Regions from separate parts of the Homo sapiens genome. Here regions 2, 3 and 4 are each linked to region 1. Evidence: fine-mapped expression QTL. A gene starts in region 1. Each other region holds a variant in brackets. All regions are shown on one strand. Distances are from middle to middle. Region 1 holds the start of SLC46A2 (solute carrier family 46 member 2). Region 2 overlaps SNX30 (sorting nexin family member 30). Region 3 overlaps SNX30 (sorting nexin family member 30). Region 4 has its middle 24 kb from the start of SLC46A2.

Region 1 (5,152 bases):
AATACATTGTTGATCAACAATAATCACAACATGATTGTGTTGTTTCTACTCCTCTCCACATTCCAATGTGGGTTAAGAGGACATCCTCAAATAAAAATTTCTGGCAACTGTATTTTCCCCATAGCTGTAGGCTTGCAAAGACTGTCTGATGCCAAATACTAGTTTCCTGATTTACTGGCCTTGTGATCTTGTGCAAATTTCCTAACCTCTCTGGTTTCAGTATCTCAGTCTGTAAAAATGGGGTGATAGATCAGCTCACAGACTTCTCGGGAGGATTAAATTCATTCACGTAAAATGCTTAGTACATAATAAGGGCTCAAAAAATATTAGTTGCTACTGTTTTTTTTCTTAGTTCCTTTCTTCTGGAATAGTGTGATTTTATCAATCTAAACATCAGAGATTTAGTACTTGCACTTTAATGAAGCCAACCTTGCACTGGAGACTAGATTCTATCTTGAAGTGGCAAGGTCAGGGCTCTACTTGCTGGTAGCCTGGGCTGCAGAGGATGACCAGGTGCTAGCTCACCTGGGGCCTGCATTCAGAGATGGAGCAAGAAGTGGGGACATGATGAGAATATAATCCAACCCACAGTAGCCTAAACTGGGAGAGACACTGACTACCCTGAGTCTTGTTCATTTCCAGGCCAGAGAACTCAGAAGCCTGGGGGTTCCTAGGGCTGACTAGCATCCTAATAACCCAGCTCCTACTAGATCTGTTCTAGATCTGATGTGACTCTCTCAGAGACCCTTCAAATGTCCCTGGTTTCCCAAGACAATGGGAAGAACTGAAATACCACAGACCCTCCCAGAGATGACAAGGGCTGCCCCCTACAGTCTAGAGCCCTAGAATGCACAGACTCCTTGATCAAGTGGCCAGAGTGGTCCATCTGGGTCAGGTTGTTCTCATGGCCATATTTGATTGTGGAATACCACCTGGCCCCATAACCTACTCATTCACTGGAGTCTCCACCCCTCATAGGATCAAGGTGTTTGGACTGTTTGCTGTAGCCTCTGGAAAAATTAAGAATGGAGTGGGAGAGCCAGGCTTGGGTTGGGTGAAACATGTATCTCCCAAGGTGACCCTAGGTGAGGGGGAGGAAGAAGGAAATGGGCTGCTGGGCCAGATCCATGGGGCACATCTTGAAGGGCAAGACTAGGTGTGTCTTTCTCTTTGCAGAAGGCAGAGTCGTCTGGGCCTAGACACGAGGAGGCTGGGCCATGCTGGAGGTTGAGGGTGGCAGGGGAGGAGATTATAGCCCACCTAAACACTACCAAAAGAGCACATAGATACACTAAATCATTTGGAATCCAGTCCCTACTCCCTACATGAGTATATTATCCATGTGGCATTTTAAGCTCTCCCTGCATACCTGCGTCTCCCTTTCATGTCTTTGGGTTCCTGATCATCCACGCTGCCAGAGCTATAGTGGATTGTGGGTAGAGGGACAGGAAGGCTGTGTGCTTTGAGTCTCCATCCCTGGGGCTGACCATGGAACAGGTCATGCTCTGTGGTACATTTTGGCCCCTGCACCATCCATCACCCTGGTTTTCTTTGCAGAAGTATGTACCTAAACAAGAAGCGAGGCCACCTGGGAAGTGGAGGTCTCAGCCCAGCCCAGGGGAGTGAGCCCACAGACAGAAGAAGAGTGACTACTAACAAGCAGAAAGGGACCTGGGCACTTGATTCAGATGAGGACCCTGGTGACTCTGCCCCTTCCAGTGGGCTCAAGCCCCTGCCCAAGAGTCCAGTTTTATCATCTAGGGGGACATCTAGGGCTGGCAGGATCTTGCCGTCTCTCCCTTGGCCCTGGGGTTTGGGGCAGGAGCCTTCTAGACAAGGCCCAGGCACTAGGCCCACCAATGCAGGTGTACCAAACAGGACTCTTCTCTAAGAGGCCTTTGGCTTGGAGAAGAGCCTGGACCTGGCGGCTCCCAAGTTTTTACTTCTCTCAAAGTGCTACCCAGCTGCCTATAGCACATGGGCCCCTGTTGCATTAAATCTATAAATAAAACTTCACACCCCAATACTTATCCTAGGCAGAATCCTAGGCGTCCCACCCCTCGCGCAAACCTGCCTTCCTGGGATGGGAGAATTTGGAAACGCTCCCTGAGCCAGTCCTGGGGAGCTTCCTTCCAGCCCCTGCCCCGGTGGTGGGGGGTCCGCAGAGATCCGCGGGAGGTCCGGGCACGCACGCCTGGCTGTGGGGAAATTCGGCCCCGTCAGGCGGCCGCGCTCACAGGAGCAGCGTGACCCGTCGGCCCCGGGGGTGCTGGCGCCAGGAGCCAGCACTCGCGGTGCGCTCCCCCGCGCCTGGCTTCCCTGGACTGTCGCCAGTCCTACTCTGCCTGAGGTGGCGAGGGCAGGGTGGAGCGCGGCCTTTTCTGGCCTGAGGAGGAGTCACTCGGGAGGTCACTCGGCTGCTGGGCGGGCTGCTGTCACAGGCGCTGCGTGCCCTGGCTCTGCTCGCCACTGGCCGGCGCGCTCCCGGCGCACGGAGCACACTCGCGCTCCCGGCGCACGGAGCACACTCGCGCTCCGGGACTGAAACCTGAGCAGCCGTAGCAGCCGAATTTGGGAGCATATCCTTGTCACTGCAGCCAGAAAGCCCTTCGATCCCCATCAGAGAGGTCACATGAGCCCCGAGGTCACCTGCCCGCGGAGGGGCCACCTGCCTCGCTTCCACCCGAGGACCTGGGTTGAGCCCGTGGTGGCCTCGTCCCAGGTGGCTGCCTCCCTCTACGATGCGGGGCTACTCCTCGTGGTGAAGGCGTCCTACGGAACCGGAGGCTCCTCCAACCACAGTGCCAGCCCATCGCCCCGGGGGGCTCTAGAGGACCAACAGCAGAGAGCCATCTCCAATTTCTACATTATCTACAACCTTGTGGTGGGCCTGTCCCCCCTGCTGTCCGCCTACGGGCTGGGATGGCTCAGCGACCGCTACCACCGAAAGATCTCCATCTGCATGTCGCTGCTGGGCTTCCTGCTCTCCCGCCTCGGGCTGCTGCTCAAGGTGCTGCTGGACTGGCCAGTGGAGGTGCTGTACGGGGCGGCGGCGCTGAACGGGCTATTCGGCGGCTTCTCCGCCTTCTGGTCCGGGGTCATGGCGCTGGGATCGCTGGGCTCCTCCGAGGGCCGCCGCTCTGTGCGCCTCATCCTCATTGACCTGATGCTGGGCTTGGCGGGGTTCTGCGGGAGCATGGCTTCCGGGCATCTCTTCAAGCAGATGGCTGGGCACTCTGGGCAGGGCCTGATACTGACGGCCTGCAGCGTGAGCTGTGCCTCGTTTGCCCTGCTCTACAGCCTTTTGGTGCTAAAGGTCCCTGAGTCGGTGGCCAAACCCAGCCAGGAGCTCCCCGCCGTGGATACCGTGTCTGGCACGGTTGGCACATACCGCACTCTGGATCCTGATCAGTTGGACCAACAGTATGCAGTGGGGCACCCTCCATCTCCTGGAAAAGCAAAACCCCATAAAACCACCATTGCCTTGCTCTTTGTGGGTGCTATCATATATGACCTGGCGGTGGTGGGCACAGTGGACGTGATCCCTCTTTTTGTGCTGAGGGAGCCTCTCGGTTGGAACCAAGTGCAGGTGGGCTATGGTATGGCTGCAGGGTACACCATCTTCATCACCAGCTTCCTGGGTGTCCTGGTCTTCTCCCGCTGCTTTCGGGACACCACCATGATCATGATTGGGATGGTCTCCTTTGGGTCAGGAGCCCTCCTCTTGGCTTTTGTGAAAGAGACATACATGTTCTATATTGGTGAGTCTGTCATTCTTGAGGAGGCAGGACATTGCTAGCCCTCTGCATCATGGGGCTGACACCAGGGATGCCATGGTCTGGGTGTCCTAGCTCAGCACCAGGGATTGAACCTGCTACCTAGGAGGCACAAGGGACACAAGATTATATGCCCCTGAGTTTATCTGTAATGTATTGTTAATTAATTATCTATATTGAGAATGAAATGTTACCAGAGTGGTGTTCATGGTTCTGGGCAGTCAAGGAGGTGTGGTCAGTGGTACCTGGAGTCAGTAGGGGAGGCTTCAGGATGGCCTTCAACAGAGGAGATGGAATTGGGTTTCTTCCCCCACACCCCCTTGCCATTTTAAAGGGATGGAATTTCAAAGGCCGAGCGCAGAGGCTCTCGCCTGTAATCCCAGCACTTTGGGCGGGAGGTGGGAGGATCACTTGAGGCCAGGAGTTCAAGACCAGCCTGGCCAATATAGCAAAACCTCATCTCTACCAAAAGCATAAAAATTAGCCAGGTGTGGTGGTGCACACCTGTAGTCCTAGCTACTCAGGAAGCTGAGGCACAAGAATCACTTGAACCCAAGAGGCAGCGGTTGTAGTGAGCCGAGATTGTGCCACTGCACTCTAGCCTGGGTGATAGAGCAAGACTCTGTCTCAAAAAAAAAAAAACAAACAAACAAAAAAAAAAAAACGTGGAGGAGTGGAATTTCAAGTAATTCTACTGAAAAGATCCCTTAATTAAAATCATTTGGAGTCAAGCAAGGGCTTTTTAAAAATGCATTAAAATACTCGGTAAATGCCTTCCACAACCAATGTAATAAATTCCCCAAGGAAGCAGCATTAAGTTTCCATCTGAGGGCACAAGTCAGACAACTATAAGCAGAAAGCTCGAGATGAATGCTCCAATAGAACTTTCTAGAATGATGGAAATAGTTGCTATCCATTCTGTCCAATACAGAAGCCACTGGCTCCATGTGGCTATTGAGCCGTTGAAATGTAGCTAGCGCAACTAAAGAACAGATTTTTAAATTTTATGTCATTGTATTTAATTTAAATAGTTATATGGGGCTAGTGGCTATCATATCAAAAAAACAACTTCAGACAGTTATCTGAGGCTGGCTCTTGGCCCAGGCAGGTCACACATCTTAGAAACACCTAACAAAATGGCAAGGTAACCTCTGGTCACTTCTCAATTAAACAGCATAGGACAGAGTACCCCCTTCCCCTTTTGCCCACCACCTCTCTCTGTGTCTCTCTTTGGGTTTTGTTTTGTTTTGTTTTGTTTTTGAGATGGAGTTTCACTCTTGTTGCCCAGGCTGGAGTGCGATGGTACGATCTCGGCTCACTGCAACTTCCACCTCCTGGGTTCAAGTGATTCCCCTGCCTCAGCCTCCCAAGTAGCT
Region 2 (5,152 bases), 27 kb after region 1:
TTGACATAGTTGGTTTTGTAGTAGTAGGAAGGCCGCTGAACAGCAGAGGGAAGGTGTGGGAGTTACAGAAGAAAGGAACTCTGGGTAACAGACTGCACTACTGCACTCCAACCTGGGTAACAGAGTTTTTGACCCTATCGCAATATATATATATATATACATACATACATACATACACACACACACACACTCACTCATGTGTGTATGTATGTATGTATATGTGTGTATATATATGTGTGTATACGTGTGTGTGTGTGTGCATACATACATACATATATATATATATATATATATATATATATATATATATGGCGTGACAGGATCAAAAAACTCTGTTACCCAGGTTGGAGTACAGTAGTGCACAATCATGACTCACTGTAGCCTTGAACTCCTGGCTCAAGCCATCCTCCTGCCACAGCCTCCCGAGTAGCTGGAACTATAGGCACACGCCACCACACCTGGCTCATTTTGTATCTTTTGTAACGACAGTCCCACTACATTGCCTAGGCTGGTCTTGAGCTGGGCTCAAGTGATCCTCCCACCTCGGACTCTTCAAGTGCTGGGATTACGGGCGTGAGCCACTGCACCTGGCCTCGCACTGGTTTGCTGGACATACGAATCAAGCAAACCTTGATTGAGGGGACTGGGCTGTAGCCTGATAAGAGTCATCTCTATGTGTGTGTGGTGTGTGTATGGTGTGTGTGGGGGTTGTGTGTGAGGGTTGTGTGAGGTATGTGGGTGTGGTGTGTGGGTGTCGTGTGTGGGGGGGTTGTGTGTGGGGTGTGTATGTGGGGTGTATGTGTAGGGGGTGTGTGGTGTGCATGTAGTATGGGGGGTGTGTGGTGTATGTGTGGTGTGTGTGTAGTGTGGGGGGGTGTGGTGTGTGTGTAGTGTGTGTGTGGGGTGTGGTGGTGGTAGTGGGGTGTGTGGGTGTGTGTGTGTGTGCACGCGCATGTGCGTGCGCTGCTTAACCTGGTCAAGGGGATCCATGAGTAAAAGTTTTTAATAGAATTGCTTTCCTTTGTAATCCTACATCCCTTTATTTTACGTATTTAAAATCAATATTTTGAAGTCTATTTAAAAAACAAATGCACAGTATTTTGGTGAGGGGTCTATAGGCTTCACCAGATGACCAAAGGGGTTCACTGCACAACCAAACTGAAGGGACCCTGTGTACAGAACCCCAACACAGAGTAAAGTAACCCCAAAGCCTCCATTCGGTGGCAGCATCACTGTGCTGAAGGTCTGACTGGCTCTGGGAAGCAACCAGTGCCAGGCCCAGAAAGCATGGAAGACGAATGGGCTGCTTCCCCAGCAGCATGTGCAAGGGAAACCCCTGTGAGCACCCCCTCTGCTGCCAAACCCAGCACTGCAGCCACATGGTTGGGCAAGGGCATGAAGCGGGAGCCAAGACTAAGCAGCTAAAATAAGGGAAGGAGATGAGACTAGCAGGATTCCCAGCTTGTGGATTTCTGGTAGGCCCATGTGAAAGGCTCTGGCCATTAGAAACCAGTCTTGTTGGGCACACTCATTACCTTCTCATAATACTGGATGTTCTTGTCAGCCATCCCCATGAGTAGCTGCCGGAAGTCCTGCCTCTTGTTGTTCTGCCACCTCTCCATGTCAGCTTTCAGGTCAGCATTGAAACACTCCATCCGATCCTGACATTTCTCGACGTCCGCCGGTACCTGGAAAAGGGAGGCACACATGGGTGCCCTGCACACAAAACTGGCATCTCTTGCCTTGAGCTCCTCTGAGCACACATTTGTCAAAGGCCAAAGCCCTACATTAAAATGCTATCAACACGCTCCCTCCTCTGGAGGCATTTATTTGAAAGCAAAACCTTGGGTTTTCAGGTCTAAGGAGGAGCTCTGAAAAGGGGCTCTCCTAACCCAGATCTTCAAACCCATCCAAACACAACAGAGACTCGTGGGGGAAACACCCCCATTTACACACAGGAAGAAGAAACATTGCAATTCAGACTCATATGTCTTTGGTTCCTTTTAGGATTTACTCATCCACACTTGAAAGTGTGTGCAGACTTTGCAAATATACAGCATTTGTATTGCCCTGCTATTCTCCTGTGTCCCATATTGGAACTAGAGAAGAGGTAGGTTCTCCCAGATCACATGAACTATTCCATTGCTGTGACATTTGATGATGCCTTTCCTCATTAATCAGAGAATTGCAATAAGACAACTACTGGCCAGCTGCCTCCTCTGAACCCCACATCATAAATAAACTGGAGGCTTGTTTATGCTTTTCCCAATAGCAGATACTTTTAAATGGAGAGTTAGAGAAGTCTGAGAAAACAGGAGGAAAGTTACTTATGCATGTCAAAAAAATTTGAAATTCAAAGAAGAAATATACAGCAGGCTATTTCAAGTTTTTCTTAAAGAGGTTTAGAAGACTTTCTCAAAAGGGAACTATGTCACTTGAAGTTTCACAACTTTCACTTTGCTTTGGTGAATTTCACCATCCTGTGCAGCTGGAGTTTGGGCTTTGTGGCTGCAGC[G/A]CTTCCCAAAGCTGGCTTCTCTCTCCTAACTCAAGCACTTCACTGAGCCCTGATGGCGGCCAGGGAGCCGACAGGCCCAAAGCCAGGTCAAACCCCCGACCTGCCAAATGTATCCCAACCACAAGTGAGGCCTTTTATGTTTGGTGTGCTGGGGCCCATGAACCAAACTGTCTCCAAGCCATGGCTCACCCCTGGGAGTCCACTTCCACCAATCGAGGAGGTTTATACCCAAGCCTCGTGGACAAGGAGCTGACCCAGAATGATGCCAATGAGAAAGACAGGCCTGAGGGAGCTGGACACCTTCAGGGTACTCAGCCATCTTCTCCACAGACCACGTGGAGATGGTTGTAGAACACAGGAGTCAGGGAAGAGACATGGCCAAGGCAAGTGAATTTGAATGTGCCTGACACGGGAACTAGACATGGGTGAAACCAGGATGAGCTGGAGAGAGAGATAACTAGACACTCTGGAAATTTAAAAGCAAGGAATTTTTCTGTTAAGATGGGGAAAGAGGCCTTCTTCAAAGCACATAAGCTTCTGGAAGAGGGAAAAAAAAAATACTGGGCTGAGTGCAGTGGTTCATGCCTCCCAGCACTTTGGGAGGCCAAGGCAGAAGATCACTGGAGGTCAGGAATTTGAGACCAGCCTGGGCAACATAGTAAGACCCCCATCTCTACAATAAGTAGGATGTGGTGGCGCTATGTTGTCCAGGCTGGTCTCGAACTCCTGGCCTCCAGTGATCCTCCCACCTCGGTCCCCCAAAGCACTGGAATTACAGGTTTGAGCCACCATACCAGGTCAGAGACTGACTTTTTCTTCTGATGCCATGATTTAAGTCTCTTTTGCCTCCTCCCAAGACCACCCATTACTATTGGTTACCTCAGGAAAAACTGAAATAAAAACCAGAGTATCCCAGTCTTGCCTCTCCAGAGTCACTCCAGGAATCAGCCTCAATGGAAAGATGCCCAGCGAGCCAGTGTCTCTGGCTGGCCTCACCTCCCCACAGGCACAGGCCAGTTCCCTTACCCGTCTCCTGGCCACTGCTCACACTTGCATTGGGGTGAGGGTGCCTATGAGCAACTTCCTGTTTGCTTAACGAAACTTCTGCTGTGAGGAGAAAATGGAAAGCCCTGGAAAGAGAACCTCACCAGGACACGTGGAGAGGAGGGCAGCCAGGGTCTCTGAATCAGGACTGTTCACAGAGGAAAGATTCCCAGGTTTAAAGATTCCCAGGTGTGTTCTGGAGATGGGAACTCTGACTGACCCAGAAAAATCAGGGTCTAAACCACGGCTGTGGGTTTTAGGACTGCCTGAGCCTCGGTCTGGGAAATATTTGGCTTCTCAGTTTCACAACACATTCTGTGCTTGGCACTGAGGAATACAAAAGTGCTTGGGTCTCAACAGACAAATCTTGTCTCCCGTAACCTACAGTCTAGTTGGGAAGAAACAGGAACATGCCTAGACACTGAGGCAAGATATCGTAAGTGTTGTCGCTTCCCCTGCAGCCCCCGTGATAAGCACGCTGAGGAGGATGGAGGGGGCGGCCAACCTGGGAAGATCGGGCCTCATGGAGGAAACAGCACTGAGGCGGCTCTTTAAAGATGACAGATGTGAGATGTTTGACCACTTGGAAGGCACTCCAGAGTGGCGGTACACACAAGGGACAGAGGAGAGAAGACACCAGGACCCACCGCAGGAATTGTGCACAGGCCACAGGGCCCACAGCGGCACGGAGAGGGAACTGCAGCTCGCAAGACTGGCAGAGGGTGGCAGGGGATGAGGAACCTGAGGCTCGTCCCAAAGTCCTGCTTTCCTGAGGCCCAGTTAACTCATGCCCACTCTTGGAGAATAGAAAAAGCCCCACACTTCCTCCAGCTGCAGTGGACAGCTCTAGAACCAAACTTCCAGAGCTTAGCTTGCACACCCCACCTGCCACTTACCAGGTGTGTGGCCTGGGACCTGGCCTCAGCTTCTCTGTCTGGCTAATAATATCCTCCGCCTCACTAGGCTGTCATGAGGCCAGACAGGCTAATATGTGTTAAGTGCTTTACAGCGTCCTAATTAGGAAGGGGGAGTTGGGCTGACAGGACCAAGGGAAAGCAAAAAGAGAAGGCAGATTAAGCTATACTTCTGCTTTTCTTCATGGTCCAGGACACATAGCCTTCCTGCACAAATATTAATAACACAATCTTCCTGCACCCAGCTATCACCAGACCCTCAGTTAATAGAAAAATGCAAGTTTGCTCACTGCGACCTTGGAGTTATCAGCACTGCATGAAGCCCTCTTCAGTACACAGCACGAGCACCATTCTATGAAATCCCCAGCAAGCCTTTGTTTCTGGGCAGTCAGCTCCCTTCCTGCTGATCTGCCTGTTGCACTCTTGCAATGTATTTTCCTACTTTTTCTAATAAATCTGTTTTTCTTTACCTATAATTGTCTTGGTAAATTCTTCTTACCCCTGCAACACTGGTTCCAGAGAGTCATTGCACACCTGTGACACACTTGTGCCTGGCATATAGTAAGTGCTCAATAAACATTTGTTAGCTCATATCAGTATCAATATTATAATTTGCTGTTCACAAAAGATAATCTATCCCTTGCACAGCTCCTCAAGCTTTATTCCATGTGTTATAAAA
Region 3 (5,152 bases), 64 kb after region 1:
TGAGGATGTGGAGAAATCAGAACATTTATACATTGCTGGTGGGAATGTAAAATGTGCAGCCACTGTGGAAAACAGTTTGGTGGTTCCTCAATAAGTTAAATTTAGAATTACCATAAAACTCACCAATTCCACTCACAGATTTATGCCCAAAAGAACTGAAAGCAAGGCTGGGCGTGGTGGCTCATGCCTGTAATCCCAGCACTTTGGGAGGCCAAGGCAGGTGGATTGCCTCAACTCAGGAGTTCGAGACCAGCCTGGGCAACATGGTGAAACCACGTCTCTACCAAAAATATTAAATATAAAAACAATTAGCTGGGCATGGTGGCTTGCACCTATAGTCCCAACTATTCAGGAGGCTGAGGTGGGAGGATAGCTTAGGCTGGCAAGATGGGGAGGTTGCAGTGAGTGGAGATTGCACCACTGCACTCCAGCCTGGGTTACAGAGTGAGACTTCATCTCAAACAAACAAACATTTTTTAAAACTTTAAAAAAAAAATTGAAAGCAGGTGCCCAAACAAAATTTTGTACACAAATAGTCATAACAGCCTTGTTTACAATGACCAAAAGGCAGAAGCAATCCAAATGTCCATCAACATGTGAATGGGCAAACAAAATGCGGCATATCCATGCAATGGACTAATAGTTTGTCATAAAAACTAAGTACTAAAACATGCTACATCATGGAAAAACCCTGGAAACATTATGGTAAATGAAAACAGCCAGATACAAAAGTCCATATATATGATTCCATTCATGTGAAATGTCCAGAATAGGCAAACCCACAGAGACAGACAGTAGATGGTGGTTGCCAGGGGCTGGAGAGATCGGGGGAAATGAGATGTGACTGCTTCATGGGTACAGGGTTTCCTTCCAGGGTGATTCTGAAACTTTTCAGAAGGTGGTGACAGATGCACAACATTGTGAATGTATTTGATGCCACTGAATTGTAGATTATAAAATGGTGCTATGTTTTTTAGCACAATAAAAGAGCGTATTACATACCTCAAAGTCATAAAGCATAATAATAGTACCAGCACTTATTAATCTACCACTCAACTTGACAGAGAGAACACTGCCATTGACAAAGTTCCCTGTCAACGGATCCCTGATCAGATCTCCGCTTATTCCTGCCCCCATGAAGGAATTAACAATCCTCAACTTTTTGGTCATTGCTCCCCTCTAAGTTTCAGTTTTAAAACCATGTACTGTTCGTTGAGCTTGTTTAACTTTATAAAAAATAAAATTACAGTTAATGTGTCACTTAATGACAGAGATACACTCTGAGAAATGCATTGTCAGGCAATTTCATCATTGTGTGAACATCACAGAGTGCACCTACACAAACCTAGATGGTGCGGCTACTACACACCGAGGCGATACGGTATAGGCTATTGCTCCTAGCATGTTACTGTGCTGACTACTGTAGACAATTGTAACACAATGGCAAGTACTTGGGTACCTAAACATATTTAAATGTAGAAAAGGTACAGTAAAAATACAGTATTATAATCTTATGGGACCACCATCTATATGCCATCCACCATTGACAGAAATGTCACTATGCAGTACACACCTGTATAGTTCGCTTTTGTCATTCAACATTGTCTTTCTGCGACTTATCCATATTGATGTATGTTTAGCTACAGGAAAATAATTTTACTGTTCCATAGTCACGCACTATATAACTGACTGTGTGACAAATTGTCCACCTACTCTCCTGCCTGTGAACGTGTGCATGATCATGTGAATGGTTTTCAGCTTTATAGCCCTACTAACAATGCTGCTGTGAACACTCGTGCAGATGCAGCCTCTTTAGAAAATGCAAGCCTCTTTAGGGAATAAACCAAGACAACGTTGGCCAAGCAGGTCTATCAGGACAATCACATGCTTTTTCCTTTAATACGGTAAGTGGTAAATTAATATATTTTCTAATGTTAAACCAACCTAGCAGTTCAAGTTCAAAGTAAGACATTAAACACAAGCATTTAACTCCACAACCTCCTCAAACCCCCATAATATGGCAATAAAGAGGATTTTTTAAAATTATAAACCCTGAAGGACAAAAACAAACCAGAAATAAGACATAGCAACAAGGATTAGTGGACTTAGCCAACCCAAAAAAGTGGAATACTAGGCCACTTGGAGTAGGCCTAGTAAACCTAGATTTAGAACACAAAACCTTGAAAAGATTTAGGAATTGGTAACACCAACACCCCACCCCCTGGAAAAGAAGTATTTGGAGTATGAGGGAATTCAGTGCCCTCAACTTGAAAGAGCTTCAGAAAGTATGTTTTAGTTATCAAGAGTAAAGATTCTGATGCCATGCTTCCTGGGTTTATCTTTTGACTTTGCCACCTACTAGCTGTTTGCCTACCGTCAAGTTCTATACATTTCTTGGTACCTCAAGAAGTTGGTGCTAGGTAAAAACTAATAGCATCAACTTCACAGGGTTGTCATGAGGATTAAATTAGCTAATATGCTGAAAGTGCTTTGAATGATTCCTACCACAGGGTAAACACACACAAGTTTGGGTGTCTTTGTTGTAAGACTGGCAGCAGCTTCAGGGGACTACTAATCTTCAGGGACATCCAGTGTTCATTTAAACCTTGACATGGTGGGAATATTCAGAGAAGATGTTAAGAATACTGGGGGATTCTTTATGACAGAGCAGGAGTTCCAAAAAGGGCACAGTGGAAAGGTTTGTAAATGAAAGAAGAGAGGGGAATAGAGTCAGGAATAAAATTACAGACCCACACAAGGATAACATGTCCACGT[G/A]TGACACCCAGCAGAGCTTACACTTGAGTAGAATATTCGAAATGCAGTGCTGGATCAGACAGACGGGCCACTCAGCCCGATGCTGGCCCAGTCCAAAGCACTGAGAAGTTATCTTAATGGGATATGGCTGTCCTTTAGGATAATTCCTTTATTCTGGTCAGTTCTTCTCTCCCCCGTTCCTTTAGGCAGCCATTCTCATACCCCAGCTTTTCGTGCTAAGCAGATTACTATCTTTCTGAAGTGAGAACCAGGTGTAAGAGCATCAGATGGAAATTTCCTATTTTGCTTCCTCCACAGAAGCCCATTGACTGGGCATCACCCTCACCTCCATTCCTTAGCCCCTGTGGAAAACAACCCCTCCTCCCCTAAAGCTAAGCATTCCATCTGTGTCCTTGACCCATTTGTTCATTGGGGTGCACCTGTCATTAATCTCTTCCCTGTATCTTCAACATCTCCTGTTCATCCAGCTCTATTCCCAGAATCTATAAAAATATGGTTGGTTTTTCTTCCTAAAAAATACGAATCCAACCACCCCTTGACCTTATATCTTCTCCCTTGTCCTTCCTGGCTCATTCAATCTTTTTGAAAGGAGTCACTTATCTCGACTTCACTGTATCCCATTGATTTCTCAACCCCCAGCCTTCTGCCAACCCTCAAAGCAAAACCAGCTGTGATACTGCCTTCAGTGCTGGGTTTCTCTGCCCTATCCCCACCCAGTGCAGAAACGGCCCTTTTAAAATTGAGTGCCAATGACTTTCTAATTACCAAATCCAGTGGATATTTTCCTGTTCTTACTTCATGAGTCCTGTTACGATACTCTCATTTGCTTCTGCTGAATAAGACTTGAGAGGATGGCCTGAGGCGCAAGTAAGTGGTTAGGAGTGCCTCATTTAACATAAAGATGACATTCTACAATAGGGGTCCATTCTTCAGATTTAGCAAATTGAACTTATGTTTCATCAATCGGGGAAACTTGATATTTAAAGGAACCCTAGAGAGAATCCTTCTGCAAGCAGAATTTCCTCCTGTCATAAGCGTTATCATTTCCAAATGTATGTAGCTTCAGAAATTTCTTGCTATTTCAAGATTCCTTACGGGACACACCTACTCTCAGCCTCACCTCTATTACTGTCTGGGTTGTTTACACATAGGAATCTGGGTTGCAGGTGAAATCAAGTCCATCTATAGTCTGTAAACCACATCATGTAAATGAAAAGAGCTCAACACAGTTCCAGGCACACAGCAGATGTCTAACAAATGCCAAGTATTTTTATTAATTTGTAAGCACCGAGAACAAAAAGCAAAAAGGGGAGTGGACTTACAGGTAGAATGTCTATATAACGTTTAGGCCAAAATGTCTTAAAAAATCGATTGGGGGAAGCAGACACAGTGGCTCATGTCTATAATCCTAGCATTTTGGGAGGTCAAGCTGGGAGGATTGCTTGAGGCTAGGAGCTCCAGACCAGCTTGGGCAACATAGCAAGACCCCATCTCTACAAAAAATAAAAAATTAGCTGGCCATGGTGGTGCACGCCTGAAGTCCCAGCTACTGTGGAGGCTGAGGTGGGAGGATTGCTTGAACCCAGGAGTTGGAGGCTGCAGTAAGCTATGGTCATGCCAATGCACTCCAGCCTGGGTGACAGAGTGAGATCCTGTCTCAAAAAAACAAGTCATTTGGGATCTACTTCTTCACACCCACTAGAATTTTTAAAGTAAAATAGCAAATGTTGGCAAATACGTGGAGAAATTGGGCCCTCATACATTTCTAGTGCAGATATAAAATTATAAGCCACTGTGGAAAACCGTTTGAACAATTCCTCAAAAAATTAAACACAGAATTACTATATGCTCCAGCAATTCCACTTCTTGTTGTATAGCCAAGGTAACTGAAAATAAGTGCTCAAACAAAATCTTAGACAACCACCAGTGTTGATAGCAGCATTCTTCATTATAGCCGGGCTGGGAAAAGGAGGGAATTGAGAGTGGTTCCTTAATGGGTACAAAGTTTCTTTTGGGGGTAATGAAAATGTTCTGGATTAAATAGTGGTGATGGTCGTACAACACTCAATGGTGGTGATGGTCGTACAACACCGTGAATGTACTAAAAGTCACTGAATTGGACACTTCAGAATGGTTAAAATGGTGATGTGTAATATGGATTTTACTTCCTTTTTTAAGAAAAGGAGATGTGATGGTGGAAGCAGAGATGATGACAGATATGCTGCTGGCTTTGAAAATAAAGAGGCCATGAGCCAAGGAATGCAGACAGCCCCAAGAGCTAGAAAAGGTAGGCAAACAAATTCTCCCCTAGAGCCTTCTGGTGGAATGCAGCCCTAGCCTATATGTTGATATTAGCTCACTAAAACTGATTTTGGAC
Region 4 (5,152 bases), 25 kb before region 1:
CCTATGACTCCTCCTTGGACATAAAACCCTGCAAGGATAAGGTTTTCCAAGATACAGTATATGTAGTTTCTCCTGTATGCAGGATTTATAAGTCTAGAAATCAAGGGGTAGAGGTAGGAGTAACATCTCTTGTGATCATATCTAAATAACTCACTCATAAATTGCTTACCTCTTATATCTGGATTTGGGGATCTGGTTGCTTAATGGTGTTAGTATTCAAGGTTAGAATGCCTCTATCAATTCTACTGAAGTGGAGATTGTCATCTGGCCATTTGAGAAATCTCATACCATTAGGTGGACAGGCAATTTAAGAGGGTCATATGGTTAGCTGGGTGACTTATCCTTATTATCATGCATAAAAAGAGTCTCTGCCACATGATAGGGGCCAGAGGGCCTATGTGTAGAGTTCAGGAGACTCCCAGTGGTAAAGTTAATGGAAGAGCATGCAATCTTCTACAAACAAGACCAGCAAGGGGTCAAAGTCCTCAGAAATAAGTATTCAATCACTCCTATGATAAACTAAATTATTGGTCTCAATTCTTCACTCTCCTGAAGTAGAATTTTCTGTATCTACTCATGATGTGTGAAGGATACTTTTCAATCTCTTGACTTTGGACTTGACCACGTGACTTCCTAATGGATGTTATCAAACATGATGTGAGCAAAGGTTTGAAATACACTTGTGTAGTTGAATTTGTCCTCTTGTATCCCTGCATTTTGAATTAATAAGAATATGCCTTGGGTAGTCACTTGTTGAAAGAGGATGAGATATATGGGGAGTGGATTTTGATCTAACCCACAGTTTAAGGTCAAGCCCAGCTAAGCCCAGGGTAGATCAGTTGACCCACAGCTAACCCACAGACCTGTGAGTGAGAAAAAAATACTTGTTACTGTAAGTCACCTAAATCTTGAAATTGTTTTATATATAGTATTTCTCTGGCAACAGCTGACTGATACAACATCTAGCAAAGAATCCTGACTAGCTGAAATGTTTGCCAAAGGAAAGAGGAACATAAAATTCATGGCAAAGAAACCCCTCAAATATCAGTAGTACCTCAGGATCTTATACTTAAGTGAGGATTACAGCTGCTACCTTTCTTATTATGTATCATATACTTAATTTGTCTTCTTTTTTCTTCCTTTCTTGACCATTGAATGCAGGGTATTATTGGCCAGGCTTATCAATCAGCCATGGGTTTTTTTAAATAATAGAGGATCATCTCTAGAATTAGAACGAAACAGATATTAGATAGAGAGCCTAAACAAGAATCTCGATACAATGAATTAATATAGTTTCATGTTTTCCCTCTCTTGGAAGGAGAATGAGCATATTTTCACTTTTATACTGGTTATATTATCAGGCAGGGATATTTTAAAAATTATATGGAAAGAAGTGACTGTGGATATAGTAGACAGCCAAGAGGTAGAATGTAGCAAGTGTAGACATCACTGTCCTCTACATCTGCCCACTAATCCCCAAAACAACACTAGAAGGTCATCGGGTGTTTTTTTTTAAGAAAGTTTAAGGTAGTGAATACCCCAGCCAGGAACCAGAGCTATGTGTACATGACTGATTCCAAGAAGCTGTTAAAGTCACAGAATTAGAACTTATATAATGCTAAGGATTTTAAGACAAGGCTAGAAGGGTTTTTTGCCATCTGGCTTGGGGGAAACTAGTTAGATGCATTACATTTGGGTTTAGTGGGAAATTTTAATGTGGGGGACCTACTGCAACCTGACACAAGAGTCCAGAGAGAATGGATGAGGGCAGATCTCTATAGCTTGTCGGTCCTCTGCCATATCTACAGTCATGGCAGCTTTAGTCAATAAGAAGGTATTATACATTTAAAATTTTAAGAGGGTAGATCTCTTACCAAGTCCTCTTACCACAATGAAATGAAATTCAAGAAAGAAAAAAGAAAGGATGAGGACAGACTTTCTATGGCTGAAGACCCAGCCATGAATTTACCCAAACTTCAGGAAAGATTGTGGGCAGAAGGGTTGCTGAAAACTCAGTAATCAGAATATTCCCCTTTAACATTTCTGTTTAGACACATATTTTGCTTTTCTGTCCACTTTAAGTATGTCTGTAGAAACCATTTATTAGATGCACCCTACAATTTAATCAGATTGTAGGTGTTTCTACATTGGAGTATACTTCATTTCACTTATAAGCAACATCATAAGGTACCATAACTCAAGCATCATACCACCAATTGGCATAAATTATCATAAAACTCACAGGATAGCTTGCAAGTCAAGTTAGATCAACAAACATTGTGTAATGTTTTATGCAATGAACCAGTGTTGCTCTTCCCACAGTCAACCTGGGACAACTTCGTATTTATAAAGCAAAACGTTATCTAGCATCGTTGATTTGGAAGGCCTGCCTGTTCTGAGATTTCCCCAAATTGCCACTATTTGTGAGAAAAAGATCAATCATTTAGTGATTATATCAAAGGGGAAAGGATAACTTCAATAGCCATCTTTTCCCACTGTGTATCAAATGGACTTGAACTGGCAGAAACAGTTCAGGGTAGTGCCGGGTATATAATAGTTGCTCTAAGAAGATGCTTTATTATATCATAGTGTTATGCATTAATTCGATTCAACAGCTGGCCTTTACTTAACAAATGCCAGAGATCCTTAAAGGTTTGGATTAGGCCTGAGCAAATGAGAAAGATAAGGAACTCTTGCATAGAAATGCTGAACTCGAGCAATGATTCCGTTGATTCTCAGATCATTAGTTTTTAATCTAAAAGACTTTTATACTAATTAGTCTGTTTAAGTGTGAATGGAGAAATTATTATTTCCAAATTTTTCACTGGGAAATGAGGCCTTATATTTAACAGAATTCATGATGTATAATAATAGATTGTGAAAAGCTAAATTATATACCATTTTAACTGTGTAGACAACATGTAGACCAGTCAAAACACTGAGAGATTTTGATACGGCCTTGCATGAGGAGAGTGCAAATGATAATAAACACGTACTTTCCACTTTAAGCACATACTCTCCCAAAATAAAGTGGATTCTTATGGGACATTATCCAAGCTGGAAATAGACAATGCTTGTGGGTTGCTCCTGGCTGGTCATGCTGAGCCTGCTGGTCCAAGTG[G/A]CAGAGCTGGCTTCAGGCCAAGGAAGATAAGATCAAAACACTATTCAAGGAGGAAGAGAAGGAGAAATGAGTCTCTCCCCCTCTTTTTTGTCTGTACATAGAGTCCACATCAATAGTGGATTATTTAGTAAAACACACATTTATATGCCAGGGCTTACTTTAAGTCACAAACATAGTCTTGATTCTGAAATGATGCTGTCCACTATGATATATTTAATCAACATTTGGATGTTCATTGTAAAGATAAATTTTCTCCTTTCTTCTTCTTCTTCTTTTTTGTTTTGTTTTGTTTTGTTTGTTTGACAGAGTCTTACTCTGTCACCCAGGCTGGAGTGCAGTGCCACAGTCTCAGCTCACTGCTGCAACCTCCGCCTCCTGGGTTCAAGCAATTCTCTTGCCTCAGCCTCCTGAGTATCTGGGACTACAGGCGCAGGCCACCACGCCTGGCTAATTTTTATATTTTTAGTAGAGACCGGGTTTCACTATGTTGGCCAGGCTGGTCTCAAACTCCTGATCTTGTGATCCGCCTGCCTCAGCCTCCCAAAGTGCTGGGATTATAGGCATGAGCCACCTTTACCAGCCCTTTCTTCTCAGGTAAAGTCACTGCAGGGAAACTGCAGGCTTCTGGGAACTGTCTTTTTCTCTTTTTCCCATTGCTCCTCTCTCAGATGCCTAACAGCTGCTTGTGGCCTCCCTGGGATTGGAGCCCAAGGAGGGAGAAGGAAAAGGGAGGAGGAAAAAAGTTCACTCTTGCCTGATGCTATCATAAAACCGCTTTGTGCTCTCTGGACTTGGCAGGTATCTAAAGCTGACCCTTTCTCAAGTAGGTCCCCCTGAAAAGTTCCTCTGACGACCACTCCCACGCTGTAGGCAGAGCTCCGCTCCTTGACTGCCTTCTTTCTACCCATACCATTCACCCCACCCAGCATCTTCCTATAGGACATCCCAGAATCTCCCCTGGCAGGCCATCTTCCTAGGCAGAATTCTTGTTAATCCAGACCAACATTCCTGCTATCATTTCTGAGAATTCATGGGCCTTGCTCTGCCTTTGTGGGAGAGTGTGCTTATTTTCCAATTGCAGACTCTCCTGTGTTTCATGGCCACTTTGGCTTTCTCAGCTACAAATCAGATGCCAGTTCCCTGGGTCTCCGATAGCCAAGAACATATGTTCAGATCTGCCAGGTTGACTGGATCCCTGAGGAATGTGGAATGATAGATTCTAAACTGGAATGATAGAGCAACCACAGATAAAGAAGACTGCCAGTCCAGGCCAGTTGGAAGCACACAGCCTACAGTACGCAACGAGCAGCCATCCCAAGCACAGGGTATGATGGCCAGGGCTTGATCGCTATGAAAAGAAGAGAACTAAAGTGCAAAAGAAGGAATTCCGTTTCTAGGGGCCCAAAAGCTCAGCTGCAGGAACCCAATCTGAAGGATCCTTTTAAAAGCAAAACATCTCTCTTCTATTGTTTTATCCCAGGATCCAAGAGAATAAGTGATCCCAATAGGAGTAACATTTGGATTATATTTGCAAGGTCCCTGGAAATGTCTAGGTCTATTTAAGGAGCTGTTCCTGGGAAAATAATACACTTCAGGCTAGTAAGCCAGTGGGGGCTTGGAATGGGCAGCTTAAGGGTACTTTCTGAATATGATAGTGGACTTCAAGAGAGTGGGAATTTGTATCTGTTTTGCTTGCTGCTATATCCCCAGAGCCTGGAATTTTTCTGTGTATTAAAGAATTAGCCTTACCCAAAGGGAAGTCTGGCCTTTGCCTCAGTTACTGGGAGGTGATCTCTAGGCCCAAAGAATGTCCTGCCTGATAAGAGTGTCTTTGTTTACCTAGGCTCCTTGAGAGACACTAGACTGTCTAACCATGTGATTTATAACAAGCATTTTGGGCCGCACAGTATCAGCTTAACATCCATAGGGGCTGGAGACTAAAGGTCAGCCATACAGGCTATTCACAGCATGTCCACAGGATGAAGCCCCAATAAAAACTCTGGACACCGGCTGGGCATGGTGGCTCATGCC

Evidence for each region.
Region 2: its variant is fine-mapped to the expression of SLC46A2 in whole blood (TOPMed, PIP above 0.99).
Region 3: its variant is fine-mapped to the expression of SLC46A2 in whole blood (TOPMed, PIP above 0.99).
Region 4: its variant is fine-mapped to the expression of SLC46A2 in tibial artery (GTEx, PIP 0.97).

Annotation. Positions count from the first base shown.
Region 1 is chr9:112,888,162-112,893,313 of GRCh38, reverse strand. It overlaps SLC46A2 (solute carrier family 46 member 2), which reads left to right and starts at 2,438. Exons shown (of 4, transcript NM_033051.4): 1 at 2,438-3,761. The coding sequence starts at 2,633.
Region 2 is chr9:112,860,783-112,865,934 of GRCh38, reverse strand. SNX30 (sorting nexin family member 30) reads right to left here. Exons shown (of 9, transcript NM_001012994.2): 8 at 1,536-1,688. Among named protein-coding and RNA genes, the nearest start is that of SLC46A2, 28 kb to the left of the region's middle. The variant G/A (reference allele first, on the strand shown) is at 2,516.
Region 3 is chr9:112,824,595-112,829,746 of GRCh38, reverse strand. The region is part of intron 3 of SNX30 (sorting nexin family member 30); the gene reads right to left. Among named protein-coding and RNA genes, the nearest start is that of SLC46A2, 64 kb to the left of the region's middle. The variant G/A (reference allele first, on the strand shown) is at 2,776.
Region 4 is chr9:112,912,676-112,917,827 of GRCh38, reverse strand. No RefSeq gene overlaps it. Among named protein-coding and RNA genes, the nearest start is that of SLC46A2, 24 kb to the right of the region's middle. The variant G/A (reference allele first, on the strand shown) is at 3,122.